2 linked regions of the Homo sapiens genome follow. The protein of the gene in region 1 interacts with the protein of each later gene in a pairwise test. Each region holds a gene or a part of one and is shown in the gene's direction. Other genes may lie near its edges.

What was found. The genes of interacting proteins can lie anywhere in the genome.
Region 2: the proteins of ASCL1 (region 1) and MEF2C interact in a two-hybrid assay, tested with the Homo sapiens proteins (one study listed by BioGRID).

What each region holds. Positions count from the first base shown.
Region 1 is NC_000012.12:102,953,199-102,962,258, forward strand, and holds ASCL1 (achaete-scute homolog 1), read left to right. Parts: upstream 1-4,475; 5' UTR 4,476-5,046; coding exon 5,047-5,757; 3' UTR 5,758-5,804; intron 5,805-6,163; 3' UTR 6,164-7,315; downstream 7,316-9,060.
Region 2 is NC_000005.10:88,872,185-88,880,769, reverse strand, and holds part of MEF2C (myocyte-specific enhancer factor 2C), read left to right. Parts: intron 1-8,585. UniProt on the Homo sapiens protein: Transcription activator which binds specifically to the MEF2 element present in the regulatory regions of many muscle-specific genes. Controls cardiac morphogenesis and myogenesis, and is also involved in vascular development.

The sequences.
Region 1 (9,060 bases):
AGGATTACACTTAAAATCCTGTAACAAAATCCAGAATCCAAGACTTGTGTTCATCTTTGTATTCCCTTTGCCCCTGATTCAGAATCTAACTAAAGTTAAAAATATAACTTTATTAAATTATTTGTCCAATGAAAATCCTAGTTTCACTTTTAATATCAATCCCTCTCCCCAAAGAGAAAGCATAAATTGGTTTTCAAAGAGATGAGTCATATCTTCTTTTTACAGAGAGACAACACACAATCAAGAGAACATACATAGGTCTTGAGCTTCAGCAAAGGTGGTACTGGCCTGGCCTTCAGCTGTGAATGGAAATTAAGGTGGCAGGAGACTCAGGGCACAGGGTCTCTGATCTCAGGGCAGCAGACCCCTTTGGCCACTAGGAAAGCCATCTCCCCCTACAGATCCTGATGCTGAATGAAGATAAAGTCTAATCTGAAGTATGGTTCAGCTCCAGAGTGTTCTGATATAGGAAAGGGGTCTGAAGGTGCAGAAATTAAGTCCCTTATTGTATTGGAGGAGAAAGAGAAGCCTTCTTATCTTTCTGCAATGTCTGTACTCTGGGTGATACTCACCAAAGGGGATCAGTGCTTTGTCCTTCCCACTCCCCCACCCTCATGACAAGACAGAACACTGAATGCTGCTATTCGGAAAAAGTGAAAAGGCAATCTCTGATATGTGGAGAGACTTGCAAAGCAAATTACCCAACAACATCTGATTTAATTCTCATAACACCCTTGACATACAGGCAAAGGGAGTACTACCACCTCATTTATGAATGAAGGTATCAAACCTTCCTTTTGTGAGTTGTTTACTTCTCCCTTCATGTGAAGATAAATGGGACATTGTTCAAGTGTCTTAGCCAACTAAAGCCCTAAGGACTTGCTCAGAATCAGGCCCACTGTGTGGCAAGGGAGCCAAGAAAGCAGGGCCCAGTGGCTCTGCTGAAGCCCCTTGCATGTGGAGGCCACAGAACATCTCTATAGTCTATCTTACTTGCTACTTTTCATGTCTAAAAATCGGGTTACTATCTCCATCATCTTAATATGCCAGTATCACCACCATTTCTCAAAAATGACAGGAATGACTCACCCCTAGGTGCTGGGACAGTGAGACAGAGTGGCACTGGATCTCCATTGGCTGGAGTGATGATCACAGAGTGGTTCCAGGAAGCCAAGTGCTGAGGCTCCTCCTGCCACACACCCTTTCCTGGGTGGGTTGTGTGAGCATGACTTTCTTATTAATCCCTTTCTCTTTAGACCTGGGCTAGAGTGCTCTACATACATATCATTGAAGTCTCACAACTCTTGGAGGTAGATACTATAATTACTGGCATAGGTGAAATAGAGACCCCTAGAGTGTCTCAGGGTCACACAGCTCTCAGGTAAAGGGGCCTAGATACCAAGTCAAATCAGCCTGCTTTATCTGGAATTCCATGGGCCTAGGAGAGCAGAACATGTGGCCAGTTCTCTCAGGTCGGGAGGAGGGATTATAATCTAGGTCACACAGTCAGAGGCAGGATTCTAATTTTGGCTCCTGAGCCTCCCATCTTTTGCTTCACACTGGTGAAAACAACCAGAAAGCCAATATCAATGGAAAACTCTCTTGGTAGAATCCCCAAGGATAGAAATGCAAACCTCTAAAGAAAAATTATAGACTGTTCTACCCTAGGGTTGGAGGAGAAAGTGGAGATGACAGTGTTGAGGTGCAAACTCCAGGTTTACTTGAGTGGGGGGAGGAGAACGCCTCGGTTCTTGGAAGGCTTTGCAAAGCATGTAAGGAAGAAAACTTAGCATACTAGGGTGAGAAGAGTGAGGTCAGGCTCAGGGCTGGCATAGGGAGAATAGAGACAAATGTTCTGGCGGTTTTGGCCAGAAGGATCCCAGCAACGACTGTCCTTCCTCCTGGCCTGAGGCCAATGAGTAAGGCCACTACAAGACAAGGCTTCTTCACTACAATGCACTTCCACTCCATTTGGGCACCCATTTCATGGTGTGTGTAGGGGGGAGGAGGAGAGGAGGTTCTGTCCTCTACTTCCCTGGTATTGAGATCTCTGTGTATGCATCCTGGAAAAGGAAACACGTGCTGGCTACCAGCAAATTTTCTAAGCTGTTAGATACAAGTTTCAAAATTAGCTACTGTACATCCCTTGTGTGTAGATCAGAAAACTGAGGCCAGTAGAGGCAGAGGGACTTGTTCAAGGTTATAAGGCACCATTGTGGTAGAGCTCAGACTCGGGACCTTTGTGAAGTGAGTCCAAGTTAGTAGGGAGTTTGGGGCTCATGTTTCAGCTTAATGTAAAAGAAAACACATCTAGATGCTTCCACATTTGCGACACTCCCTCCCACCCCCAACACTCAACTATTTGGCTGAAATAGAGTGAATGGGGCATTAGGACACAGCTGGGTCATGTGGGAGGTGGGTAAGGAGTGCCTGAATAATTCCTATTTCTGCAAGTGGTCTGAGGCTTACTCTGGCTGGGAGGTGCAGGGTGCCCAGGCTGTGTTGTGACTCTGCTTTTGGGTGCTCACCTCCTATACTTCCAGAGACCTCTTAGGCCCTTTCCTTGGTCAGGGATGTGGAGAAAGGCCTGAGGTGTGAATCCCACGGGGTTCAGCCAGTCCTGTGAGGCCATCAAGCCACAGGTTACCATGGGGAGAAGGGGCTGTGTGGCTGGGAAAGGTTACAGAATTGACCTCTGTTGGCACGATTTGGTCCTATACCTCTGAAGCCTACCTATTCTGCAAAGATGAAACTGAGGTAGAGAAGAGAGGTGATTCACTTCGGGAGCCGCCCGTCATTACTGCCCACCATCATCACTATTGTTCCAGAAACACTCAGCCAGCCCACATACCAAGAGCAGCTCCCTGGGTCATCCCCTTGGCCCTTTAGAAAGATCCACCTCCACAAAGGGGAGTTCAATTAGAACCAATTATCCGGATAATTCACCACAATCATTCCTGCACCCAGATCTCGGATTATTTCTACTGGAAAATCAAATGGATGATTGCCCTCCACTTCGTTCTGCCTATGTAGACAAGACCTGAGACATGCCCCAGCCTCTCTCCGGACCAGATCCTTAAAGAGATGGGGCCTATTGCTTGGTCTGCTTTCTCCGCAGCGCCGCGTCCCCAGACGTCCTGAAGCTGGACGGGGTTCTGGCCAGAGAGCGCCAGGGCCGAAGGCCCAGGAAGGACGCCTGGGCAGGCGCTGTCCAAGCGGTCGAGCGACGGCTGCAAGCGCCTCCCCCTCCCTCTCGGCGCCAGCACGCGGCCCCGCCGGGCTCCGCTCCCAGTCGCCTGCCACCGGGCCGCCGGGCACACGCCTGGGGCGGGATGGTGGCTGCGCCAAGGCCGCCGAGGTGCCCGCGGCGGCGCCGAAGAACCAGGAATCCCCACCAGTGCCCTAAGCGCCATCACTCAACCCCCGCCCCGCATCTTTCTTCTCCGAGGGTCTGGGAGTATCCCAGAGCACTCCCTTCTTTATGATATCCGCTAAGCTGGTCCGGAAATAATCTTTATGGGGAGGGGGTGGCGGTAGGGGGCGATGGTACAGGGGGCCAGAGGTCATCCTAGGGGGACGTCCCTGCCATATACACCCACCTACAGGACGGCTCACAACCACTCCTCGGTGTCGCTTCCCCGCGGCCCCCCACACACTTGCTCAGTTATGGGGAGCACATCCTAGTTTTTAGAGCTGAATGGGACATTAGAGACCATATTCTGTGGCTGCAGACGAGGAAGCGAAGGCTCAGAGAGGATGCCACTTCGAGGAGCCACAGAGCATTGAGAGGACGCCTTGGGACTAGAACCCACGTTTTCACATAGTCCAGCACTTTTTTTCACTGTTCTGGACGGAGTCCCTCCCCCAACCATGTTTCTAAACTTCAATCGTAATTTGCTCCAATTTCTAGGGTCACCGAGGAACCCGAAGAGAATAACAGTGAGGAGAGAGAGAAAACAGGAAAAGTCGAGCCCCACTCCCTCCTCACCTCCACACCGTTCCTGTGCCATTTTTTCTGCCCAAACCCTTCCCTGCGCTTTGCTTCAAGTTCTTAGTAGAATCCAAGAGAGCTTCACCCCAAGTCTTTCCACCTATACACCTCAATTCCTAGAGCCATTTGTCCCTCCTGTGACGCCCCCCACCCCCTTCCTAAAGCCACCCCCGGCAGCAGCCCGCCCCGAGCGCGCCGCCTGTTTATTCAGCCGGGAGTCCGGCACGCGCCAGGCGCACGCACTGCAACAACAAACCCAGCTGAATGGAGAGTTTGCAAGGAGCGGGAGAAAGGAACGGGAGGGGGGGAGAGGAGAGGAGGAGGGGGAGTTTAGGGAGTGGGTGGGAGGAAGAGGTAAGAGGAGGGGGGGGAGTGGGGGCTGCAGCCGCTCGCTGCAGCAGCGGGGAGTGGGGGGCGAGGCGGGGCCAGGGCTGCGCGTGGGGCTGGGTGTCCCATTGAAAAGGCGGACGCACTCCGGCAGCCCAGCACTCTCTCACTTCTGGCCAGGGAACGTGGAAGGCGCACCGACAGGGATCCGGCCAGGGAGGGCGAGTGAAAGAAGGAAATCAGAAAGGAAGGGAGTTAACAAAATAATAAAAACAGCCTGAGCCACGGCTGGAGAGACCGAGACCCGGCGCAAGAGAGCGCAGCCTTAGTAGGAGAGGAACGCGAGACGCGGCAGAGCGCGTTCAGCACTGACTTTTGCTGCTGCTTCTGCTTTTTTTTTTCTTAGAAACAAGAAGGCGCCAGCGGCAGCCTCACACGCGAGCGCCACGCGAGGCTCCCGAAGCCAACCCGCGAAGGGAGGAGGGGAGGGAGGAGGAGGCGGCGTGCAGGGAGGAGAAAAAGCATTTTCACTTTTTTTGCTCCCACTCTAAGAAGTCTCCCGGGGATTTTGTATATATTTTTTAACTTCCGTCAGGGCTCCCGCTTCATATTTCCTTTTCTTTCCCTCTCTGTTCCTGCACCCAAGTTCTCTCTGTGTCCCCCTCGCGGGCCCCGCACCTCGCGTCCCGGATCGCTCTGATTCCGCGACTCCTTGGCCGCCGCTGCGCATGGAAAGCTCTGCCAAGATGGAGAGCGGCGGCGCCGGCCAGCAGCCCCAGCCGCAGCCCCAGCAGCCCTTCCTGCCGCCCGCAGCCTGTTTCTTTGCCACGGCCGCAGCCGCGGCGGCCGCAGCCGCCGCAGCGGCAGCGCAGAGCGCGCAGCAGCAGCAGCAGCAGCAGCAGCAGCAGCAGCAGGCGCCGCAGCTGAGACCGGCGGCCGACGGCCAGCCCTCAGGGGGCGGTCACAAGTCAGCGCCCAAGCAAGTCAAGCGACAGCGCTCGTCTTCGCCCGAACTGATGCGCTGCAAACGCCGGCTCAACTTCAGCGGCTTTGGCTACAGCCTGCCGCAGCAGCAGCCGGCCGCCGTGGCGCGCCGCAACGAGCGCGAGCGCAACCGCGTCAAGTTGGTCAACCTGGGCTTTGCCACCCTTCGGGAGCACGTCCCCAACGGCGCGGCCAACAAGAAGATGAGTAAGGTGGAGACACTGCGCTCGGCGGTCGAGTACATCCGCGCGCTGCAGCAGCTGCTGGACGAGCATGACGCGGTGAGCGCCGCCTTCCAGGCAGGCGTCCTGTCGCCCACCATCTCCCCCAACTACTCCAACGACTTGAACTCCATGGCCGGCTCGCCGGTCTCATCCTACTCGTCGGACGAGGGCTCTTACGACCCGCTCAGCCCCGAGGAGCAGGAGCTTCTCGACTTCACCAACTGGTTCTGAGGGGCTCGGCCTGGTCAGGCCCTGGTGCGAATGGACTTTGGAAGCAGGTAGGTTGCATTTTGGGGTGGGCAGGGGGGTATTCTTGCCTTCGTCCTCCCTCTGAGTGTCTGTGGAAGTGGGGATGTCTCCAAGGAGATAAGGGGATTTTTATTTAAAGAATTTGTGAAAGTTGGTCGATTTCAAGTCCTAGTTTGTTAGTTTCAGCACTGGCCTCTGAAAATGGCCTTGCCCAGGTCTCCAAGGAGTGAAGGGTAGTAGTGAGGTGCAGAGATACTGGTGAACCGAATACTGGGACATGTTAAAAGAGATGTCTACCTGACAGACTCTTTCCCCAGACCTCCATCTCCCTCTACCACTAGCCTACACGTTCAAATTAACCTCTCCTGTTCTTTTCCTTATGTTATAGGGTGATCGCACAACCTGCATCTTTAGTGCTTTCTTGTCAGTGGCGTTGGGAGGGGGAGAAAAGGAAAAGAAAAAAAAAAGAAGAAGAAGAAGAAAAGAGAAGAAGAAAAAAACGAAAACAGTCAACCAACCCCATCGCCAACTAAGCGAGGCATGCCTGAGAGACATGGCTTTCAGAAAACGGGAAGCGCTCAGAACAGTATCTTTGCACTCCAATCATTCACGGAGATATGAAGAGCAACTGGGACCTGAGTCAATGCGCAAAATGCAGCTTGTGTGCAAAAGCAGTGGGCTCCTGGCAGAAGGGAGCAGCACACGCGTTATAGTAACTCCCATCACCTCTAACACGCACAGCTGAAAGTTCTTGCTCGGGTCCCTTCACCTCCTCGCCCTTTCTTAAAGTGCAGTTCTTAGCCCTCTAGAAACGAGTTGGTGTCTTTCGTCTCAGTAGCCCCCACCCCAATAAGCTGTAGACATTGGTTTACAGTGAAACTATGCTATTCTCAGCCCTTTGAAACTCTGCTTCTCCTCCAGGGCCCGATTCCCAAACCCCATGGCTTCCCTCACACTGTCTTTTCTACCATTTTCATTATAGAATGCTTCCAATCTTTTGTGAATTTTTTATTATAAAAAATCTATTTGTATCTATCCTAACCAGTTCGGGGATATATTAAGATATTTTTGTACATAAGAGAGAAAGAGAGAGAAAAATTTATAGAAGTTTTGTACAAATGGTTTAAAATGTGTATATCTTGATACTTTAACATGTAATGCTATTACCTCTGCATATTTTAGATGTGTAGTTCACCTTACAACTGCAATTTTCCCTATGTGGTTTTGTAAAGAACTCTCCTCATAGGTGAGATCAAGAGGCCACCAGTTGTACTTCAGCACCAATGTGTCTTACTTTATAGAAATGTTGTTAATGTATTAATGATGTTATTAAATACTGTTCAAGAAGAACAAAGTTTATGCAGCTACTGTCCAAACTCAAAGTGGCAGCCAGTTGGTTTTGATAGGTTGCCTTTTGGAGATTTCTATTACTGCCTTTTTTTTTCTTACTGTTTTATTACAAACTTACAAAAATATGTATAACCCTGTTTTATACAAACTAGTTTCGTAATAAAACTTTTTCCTTTTTTTAAAATGAAAATAATCAGCTGACTCTAAGCTTTCTTTGACTCTGATGCCCCTGGTCCAGTTTTATGAAAATGTCAAAGGGAAGAGGTGGATGGAGAAGAAAATGTTGCAAAACATGCTAAGTGGCAGAAATGACAATGATAAGTGCTATGGCCAGTCCCATCCAAATGGTTTCTTTATGATGAATGAGTGTGTGTTTGTGTGTGTGTGTGTGTGTGTGTGTATGTACATGTATATATGTTTTCTTTCTATCCTATGCTGCAAATGTACATGCCCACCAAAAAGAATAGATGGCTGCATTATCCTTTGATCAAAATTTAAAATCCCCCAAAAAAGTGAACCAGAAAGAGAGGGTCCTCCACCATTTTCCAATTCTCAACTCCATTCTGAGTTTCTCCCTGTGAAACTATGGTGGGGCTGGATGAAATAATGGAGACTAGGTCTGGGTGGGGAGGATGGTGGTTCTGGGATGGGGGTTGGAGAGGCATCCCTCTCCACATACAAGCTCCTAGTGGTGAGTATGTTTCTCTTCCCTCACTTCCAGGCATACATTTTCTACTCATTTTCTCCAATACACCTACTTGCTATATTGATTTTAAGTAAGAGGCATATATGATATGAATTCATTCCAAACGGATTGAGATTTTAATTAAAAAAACGCATTAGAAATGTGTGGTCGCTTTGAGACACTGGTCTATCTAAGCTTGTGACTCTATCCGAATAGCGTGAGCTGCGTGTAAAAGTACCCAATTACCAAGATTCAAAAAGAAATTGGTGGGTTTTTGGCTGGCTTGCTTCTTGTCAGTTAGCAAGGACGTGATTAGAATCCTACTCGGCCTCTCGCCGGCTCCTCGCTCGCCGCCTGCATTACTTGCAGATTCAGTTTGCGTGTCTCCAGCCAAGCGGAAAGCCGAGCGCAAAATGCATCTTACAAAACCCAACAAAGAACGGGTAGCCAGCACGTCTTCCAGAGTTAAAAATCTAGTCTGTGTTGGTACATCTATACCATTTAGTGGCACAGAATAATCATTTTTTAAAGCCACGATGCGCGGAGCACGCCACAGCGTCTGATGTCATTTTGCTAAATGACCCTCTATAGAATGCACATTGAGGCTTCAGTCCCTTTCAAAGAGATGAGCGTAATTAAGGAAAAAAAATCAGTAAATTCCTCATCGCCATAAATAATCGGACTTTCTGCCAGCAGTGGGCCAATTTAGAGCTTACTTGAGAGAAGTAATGCTTTTGTGATGCCTGCTTTTATTTTTATCTTCTCATTTGGAGGACCAGAGATGGGCTCCACCCCCACTCTCCATTTCTCTTTCCTTTAATTTAGCTCCTTTGCAAGATTCCAGATAAGGTATGCAAAGAAAGTGTAGCAAGTCATTTATGGCTATGAATATAACATTAGGATAATGTTTCAGCCCCCACAAAGGGGGATTTTTTTTTCCTTCTCCTGTGAGGACAGGTGTTCTTTACTCACTTCTGAATGGGAAATATCCAGTCTCGTTAAACTCGAGGCAAAGTTAGTCGTTGTTTGCCACAATGCGAAGGCAAACTCGAAAAATTCACAAAAACACACACAATTTTGCCTAAGCTAGGAAAGGGCAAAGCGAGGATTGGGCAAAATCTCATTACATCTGCTCTAATCGCTTAGCAACACAAAGCCGGGGCTTGTGCGGCGAAGGGAAGCCATTCACAGAGCTCTGACAGGCCGCATTCAGCGCGCGTTAGTCAGCTCCATAAATCACCGCTGCCCAT
Region 2 (8,585 bases), on another chromosome or scaffold:
ATAACTCCATGAAACTTAGATAACAAGAGGCACTTTGCCTCTTTTCTTCTTTGTAAACATGTTCATTTTGAAAAATTTGGGGGAAAAGATACCTGAAATTTTTTCCTTGGCCCTAACTTAACGGAATCAATAAATTCCATAACACTGCAAACGTATCTTTCTAATAAATACTTTATTTAAACTTCTTTTATAAAGAACAGCACTGAATAACTCCTTAGCATATCTTAACATTATCTTTTAAAACTTTCTTCTGTTTATTGTAGTATATTTTGTGGTTTTATTTCTCAACTCTAAAGTGTGGTATAATTTGAGTCTATGAAATCTCAGAAAGTGACAAAAATGGGGAAATAGCTGTGCAGCAATACTTGTGCTACATAACAACAAAGACATAGTTATTAAACAGAATTCTGGCTTTGGGGACATGATTCGAAGCAACATAGAAGAATTTAATATGCAATTAATGGTCACAAGATGAACTGTTAAGAGATTATTAATAAAGTTACACTTTTTTTTCAAAAGCACATCCTCTGAGAAAATACCACACAAATTAATATCTAAAACTTATCAAAATACACGTATTCATTCTATACTAATGTGGTGATTGCCTAGACACGATGAAATGATTTAATCACTGTTGTTCCATCAGTATGCTGCATGTGGAAAGACAGGTAATTAAGATCCCCGTCCTTAGCACTGTACCTTAATCTTATAGGCGCGTGGACTGTCTTGCACTCAGTAAAGCTTGACTGTTCACCGAGATCTGTCACCTTTAGGAAATCAAACCAGATTACAGAGGTGATTCACAAAACCAGGAACAACAGAGTCTATGCACGTTACAAAAGGCAGATTACATAGTTCACATGTTATTTTGATAGGTCAAAGATAAAAGCTGATTGTTGAGGAATGGCAAGACACTCAATTTCAAATGATTGCTTAGATAAGCATACTTTGACCCTGTTGCTTCATCATTATGATCCATTCAAACAATGGAAAATTCAGTTTTCAAATGACAGGCTTTCAGTAGTGAAGTAAGAGAAAACATGTCCTTTTTTATGTATGTCTTCATTGTGTAAATTTTAAGTTCCATCATTTCTTTATGAACAAACATTAAATTGTCTGCTTACATGAAGCAGGTATTGTAAGGCTTAAATGCATTAGACATTTTCAGAGGCGTTATAAAGAGCACAAAACAGAATTTGCCAGAAATAAAACATACACTCATGTTATTGAGTAATTCAGCAGAAAATGCATAATAGTCAATATCCATTATGTTATTCTGTTACCAAATATATTCTACATAAAAATGTGTAATTACATAGTTATGAATCCATATATGTGAAACATATCTTCATAAAAGTTCATTGGTCAAATTTTATATATATATATAATATATATATTTCATGAATGTTATATAAAGATCATTCTTTACAACAGAATATGATGTTTTGAGAGTTTATTTCAGAGAATAAAGTTTTGGTTTACATAATAACATTTTGAAAATCTTAACTTCTTACACACCCAACTTTACAGTAATTTTTTGCTTCTTCTAAAATTGAAGTCCTTTTTTACCCAACTGATGCCTCCTAGTGTTTCACACAATAAAACACTAATGAGTCACCCATAAATGTAAACATTGCATTTTCATTGCCTACATCATCTGTGATACATAAAATTAATATTTATGTGTTTAATTTTCTGTGCACTATTATAATAAGATAGAAAATTTTAGTGAATGAGATGTTTCATCTGAGTGGATTTGTGGCACGCACTTGCAGGTTTTCTTTGACCATCACAATATCTTACTAAGTTTTAACAAGTTTATTACCTTCAGTTGCAGTTATATATTCACTCTTTATATTCACTCTTATTTCAAGTGAGAAACATAGGTAAATAACAAAGCTTTCATTTTGTAGGCCTGGGAATTATACAGTTGGGTTCATTCTGAAATGCCTGATAAATTGCACAAGGACTATCCATTTCATTTACACACTAAAATATCTTAAAAGAGATATAATTTTTTTTCCTGCTGTGTCTTTACACTTGAAAATTTCTTTGTAAAAGTGGAATAAAGAAAGACTATTTAGAAAAGATAAAATCAAAGATAAATGCAAAATTTTCTATAAATATGGAGTATATTTATTAGAAAATAACAACAAAAGAAAAACTTTCCTTGGAAGGAAACATATTATTCTACATAAAGGGAAGTCGTGTTAGAACACAATATCCAATGACCAGCAGCTTGCCTTAATGAGGTAGAAGTTAGTGGGTGCCAACTTTGGTGTGAGTTTTCTGCCATTAGGATGGTAAGCGTAGACCTGTGATATTTTTGCATGTTTGTGATTTCAAACAGCTCTCTGATTCTACTTCCTAAGTTTCTAAATGTTTTTTATCCAATATACTTATGAAAGAAAGGGGTCATTCCTGTAATGGGTCTTAAATTGAAAGGAGGCCATCAAAAACTTGTAACATTCATGGGCCTCTTCCTGAGGTGTCATACAACATACCTGTACACAAAAACATTCATGAGTTTCTTCTACTAACACAAACATTCTATAGCATCCAAGTGTAGACACTAGATTGAACTTCATTCTGTATATGTGTCATTTAGTTCTCCTGACTCAAAATACACAGTGTATTAACAATATTTGACTATCACTTAAGATTTTCTAATTTAGTCAATAATACAGTGCTATTACAATTGTTGGACACATTTCAAAGAATGTAAGGGGGTGTGTTCCTTTCGTTCAAGGAAGCAAACATGTAGAAAGGGGTGGACCTTTCCCACAAGAGCCACATTTCTTCCCTTGGAGAATTGAAGCAAATATGCAGTACGTAAGTGAATAGCAGCATGAGAAAGAAAATAATTTGCAATGATCTCCTATAGTTAGTGAGCAAAGAAAATTGTCAGTTTTTTTTAAAGTAGCTCTTATTGACAACCTATCTTAAACTGAATACTGAAAAAAAGTCTATGAAAGTTTTATAATTTCAGTATGTTTTAACATTCATGCGTGAAATAACTGTAAAGTACACTGTAATAATTTTGGTCTTGCTCAAATCAAGAATTTTTTAGTAACCATGTTATTTTACAGACAATATTGAGGCATAACAAAATAAAGGGTGCTGGAAGCATTCATTCCTTACCCCTCTCTTTTAAGAATACGAAGATGGCATTGATGTTCTTTTGTTATTTTTGTCTGTGAAAGAAAAATAATTAAAGAATGTTCTATGACAAAGAATACCATTGTAAAAATAAGATTATAGAAAAGGTTATTTAATATACTATTATCTCACATCTCCTTGATACTATTTTAATGTTTACTGCAAAAAATCATATTCCTATTAAATATGGAAATTAGGTGATACATGTTATACAAATTTATGGTTTAGTTTTAGGTGATATGAGTAACATTTATTTGTCATCGCCATAATTCATTTGCTGTACATTGTCATTTTATTGTACAAGTTAAATCTTGGTATATATTTTTAAAATACAGCCAATGTAAACAAAGTTCAAAGTACATGAAGAGAATCTTTTGAGGGCATTGAAAAGGAAATTGACGACATTACAAGCAATAAAAACAGTAAACATATTACAGGCAGATTTCTTCAGGAATCATTACTCTTAAATAATGCAGACATTATAAAGACTTTATTAATTCTTAATGCTGTAAATTTGAAATGAATGGAGCAATGTTGTTCCTCCTGCAAGTGGTTGGGATTCATGTAGAATGACAGTGCAAGTCCTCAAGCAGTGATTTAAATTAAGTACCCAAAACTTGTTTTTAGAGGCTGGAGGAACTAACTGATCTTTGAATCAGTCCCTTTTGAGAACCTGCTTTTTCCAAATAGCATCATGAGCGTGGTGGTCTGGTTTTCCTCTTCTATCTTGTTGTCATAGATAAGATGCACATGAAGAATTCATATAAATTGCTCTCAGATACTATGGATTCCTAGCATATTGGATTAAAAAAGAAGTGGATATGGTCCTTCGATAGAATGTGAAGTGTTTTTTTAAAAATCAGCCAAGAACTATGCCTGTCTTTTTTTCACACCTGTGATTCTTTCAGCAAGTTAGAAGGATAGCAAGAGAATGTGCATCCTTCCCCAAACCCCGAAGACAGGCAGCTTTGGCTTAAATATGCTTATTTATTTTCAAAATTAGAAAATAAACACATTAATGTAAATATGTTGAGACAGACAAAGAAATTTGTCTGCTACTTAATAAACACGCGATTTATACTTTTTGTCTTCTAATTAATTGTCGACCCTGAATAAGGTGGTACAACTAAGGCATATTATGGAAAACTGGCATTATTGCTTAATGTAACATGAGGGATTGGAATTTCTTTAAAGTAATTTTAAGATATGATTATTTAGCAGAAATATTCACTGGAGCATTTTACTTTTAGAAATTATCGTCACACAAGGAAGCCTTTATAGGACCGACTACCTAATTGCAGTCAAAGATCTCTTGAATGAATGAACACACACACACAGAAGAACACACATTTTAAGAATATAGTGGTCCTATATTTTTAAAAATTTTTGCCACATTTTTTATATCTGAACAGAACGTATGTGTCTAAGCAGATGTTTTAAGTTATATCCTTCATGTAGGTGAGTCTGTAAATGTACCATTTAACTTAAATGGCTTTGTGGGAAGGTAGTTTGAGGAGTTTAAAAAGGAAAAAAAAAAAAAAAAAAAACTCCAGTTACTACAGTTTCAGCTCTTTCTTTTTAAAAAACAGTAATTACACTCAGGATAAAGAAAGAAAAATAAACTCTTTTAATTCTTTGTAACATCCACAGTTTTTCAGGTAGAGTTCTGGTATATTTTTATTCCTGAATATGCAGGGCAGGTACTGGCAGCAGAGCTACAAAATGAAAACTTCCTGGCTGCAGACCAGATACTGTGCACAGTGCCACATCATAAACTTCCCCTCTTCTGTCTCGGAGTGATTTCAGCCCTAACTAATGTCCTTTATTTCCCCCTACATAGGGTAAGGAACAGAGGGCCTTCTTCCTGGGAAATAGGGGAAATACCTTTGGGAAAGGAAAAGTATAATGTTTCCCTTCTTTAACTTGAAAATTCTGCCTCTTAAATTACTAAGACATTAACTGCAAAGTGGATTCAGTATGTTTCCTTTTTATTCCCATATAGCAGTTTAGAATACATAAAACAATAGGTGTGAGATAGAAAATGAGACCTCTTCCCCACCCCCTACCTCCAGCACACCCAGACCCAATCAGATATCTGTACTTTTTGTTTCGAAAAGAAAAATATAATGGTTTCTTTTCAATGAAGCTTGTGCATTATATTCCAGATATGTTAGATCATTTTGTGATGCAAATTAGCATTGAGGTTTTTTGTACTTATCTCGGGAAATAGCAACGTTCCACCACAATGTGTGGTGCTGCAAAAATTTTTATTGATAAACACCCACACTTTAAATGATTATTAGGTCAAAATAGAGAGTACAGGGGGAGAAAATGTGAGCTTTTAGTTTTCAGATTTGTTTTATGCTTTTCATTTGAAAGGTACAGTGTAAGTTCTGTGTATAATACCATGCAAAATAAATTGACTTCTAAATATCTGCACTAATATTCCTTGTATCTGAAACTATAGTCTAAAAGCTTGTACTTCTCCTTAAAAAATAAAGTAAAACTTTGTTAAGAAGCAGGCTTTAATTACCAGTTACATTTTCAACTGTTACCCATGTGATTTTTAAAAAATCCTATTAAAAAATAATTTCTAGCTGCCATGGCTCCTTTCAATCAGTAGAATTCTCATTTGTATGAGGTGCAATCAGATTATTGCCAGCACACCTTTCTAAAACTAGCCTTCTTCTTTAGAAATGTATTAAATGGGAGCCTTCAGGAGAAAGTGTTACCACTTAATAAATATTTGTTCTAATTTTATTTTTAAACTAAATTATTGATTTAACAGTATATGAATAGTGTATAAATGTTAGCTTAGTTGTTAACCCACTACACTAATTATTAATTGCCTATATGAAATTTACCAAATTAGACCAACAGTTAAGTGTAATTTAATTTTATTTCTCTTGAAACTTAAATAGATAAGAATGATAATTTTAATTATGTTTAAATATCAAGCATTTATTTTTCTGTGAATGCAAATGTTCCCGATAAATTGTTAAGAAATTAATACAACATAGATCTTAAAAAATGTATAAGGCAGCTTATAAGAATATGATAACAATGGCATATTCCTACACCTGGCACTTTTTCAAGACCCATTAGCAAGGGAGGAAAAAGATGTTAAACTTTGTTTTGTAAATGCTAATATATATATGAGTCAATACTTTCTGACATTTATTTGTTAGAAAATTACACACATTTAAAAATTCAAATTAAAACTATGCTTCTATTTAGGCTATTGTAAGAGATTTCTTTATTTTCTTGGAAATTCTCTGGAACAGTAGGGTCATTTGAATCATACCCGTTGGTATTGTCAGATACATTGTAAAGTTTCAACTATTGAACATATGTATGGAATAGAAATTTTAAAATAGAAAATTCGCTATCTTGCCATTTAAGTATGATAAAACTATACCCGATTAAAACGTTGACTCTATTAGAGGTTCGCCTAGTAAGTAATTCTCTGGTCAAGAATTTGGGAAATTTTAAACTCTGTTAACCATTAAAACAATTACTTCTTTAAGGTACCGGATTTTCATCCATATTTGAGGAGCCTTATTAAGTTGTTGGGTGGTCTTTTTGTAAAGGTTTATGTGGTTAAAAAAGTAGATCTTTTCACCCTTCTATTACAGTTAACATTAATATCTTTAAAAGGTACTATATAAATCCAGACCTAATTTATTCTGGATGATTTTTCTTAACTAAATGAAATCTAACAAATTTGTCTATTTTTAAGTGAATCTTTTTTTTATTTCTAGTATTTATTGGAAGTTCACTTAGACTCTATATAGGTTAGAAGTTAAAGTAAATAATTTTGACTATTTTTTTCTTTCATTTCATGTTTGAATATTTCCCCCTTTACATAAACCAAAAAAAAAAAAAAAAAAAAAAAAAAAAAATCCGTGACGACATTGATAGATTTGCAGAAGGCTGAGTAAGATACTCAGTACCCATTAATTGTTTCCCTATGACTCTTGGGTTGAAATGAATCGGCAATATCCCTTCCAAGACTGTTTGATCTTGCTTGATTTAGAGTGAGCGTTATGTGATTTTTTCCCTCCGCTTCTCTCATTTTATAGCTTCAAAAAAATCAGAGAATTCTTGACTTCAGTGTTTTTTCCTTCCGTTTTCATTGTTTTTGGATTCTCTCCTGTCTGAGCTTCCTTCTTGCTTCAAAGTATTTGGTATCGTGAAAGCAAGTGCACTTTTAACTTGTTTTGACTACACATGGGCGACAGAATTGTTTTAGATGCTAACTTACCTCCTTACACTTGAGAAACTGATGTGGTTCATCACAGCCCAATGCCATGTCTTGAAACAACTGCGGACACTGATCTTGAAATAGCCAGGGCTATAGGATCATGTCTTTGTAAAGAACAACAGCAGCTTTAGAGTCACTGGATGGTATATTCGTTGCAAACATGAACAGCTTCATGAACTCCCAGGAAGTGGTACAGTTATTGGACAAGGTCAACCACATTATGCCTTTTAGGTTGCTCTATGAAGTAAGTGTTAGACCAGAACTCCAACGGTGTGAGTGTGTGTGTGTGTATGTGTGTACGGTGTGGGGAGCATCGGTGTGGGAGAGCAGAGAGAGAGAAAAAGCATGAAAGGATGAAGATACACTCTCGAGAGAGAAGATCGTTTAAACAAGCATAAAGAGTTTGGAGACTCCATTTCCACACTTAATATCATTTCTTTGATTCTACATATTATGCTATTAGACAAACATGTCCATAAACAATAAAGAATAATGATTAAGAACAACGACCAAAACTGGGTTCAAAAGCCAGCCTCCCATTTACTGATTAGTGGTTTTAGGCAGGTGTTTTAATGACCAGAAAGCCCCAGTACCAGGATCTGTAAAATGGGAATTATAAAATCACCCACCTCTTAAAGTTTTTTAAGGATTTACTAGGATAATACATATAAAACCGTAATGCAGATACATAGTAAATGATCAGTAAATATTAAATTATTATCATAGCATTGTACTATATTTTAGTCATTTTAAGTTTCTGCTAATGGTGATTTAGAAATTTTTGGTGGGATGGTTATTAAAATTATTTTTCAATAATACTTTCAGTCCATTAAATTTGGGTCACATTCAGAGCAAGTATCTAATTCTTACACAGTCGTGGGTCAATTCTAATGATTGCTAAGTTCAATATACTTCTTTCTCCAAAAAAATCAAAACCTTTCACAGATTTGATGTTATTAAATAAATATATTATTTTTAGAACCAGAAATGGAACCAAAGAAACAAAATGATACCATCCATGAATTTTAAAAGTCATTTACTCAAAGTTCTGAATTGCAGGTAGATTATTCCTTAGTCTTAATGAAAGTTCAGTTTGGAGGAAATGTTTCATGTACAGTTATTAGATGATTTTAATGGTGAAACCAGCCTCGCCAAGAGTTCT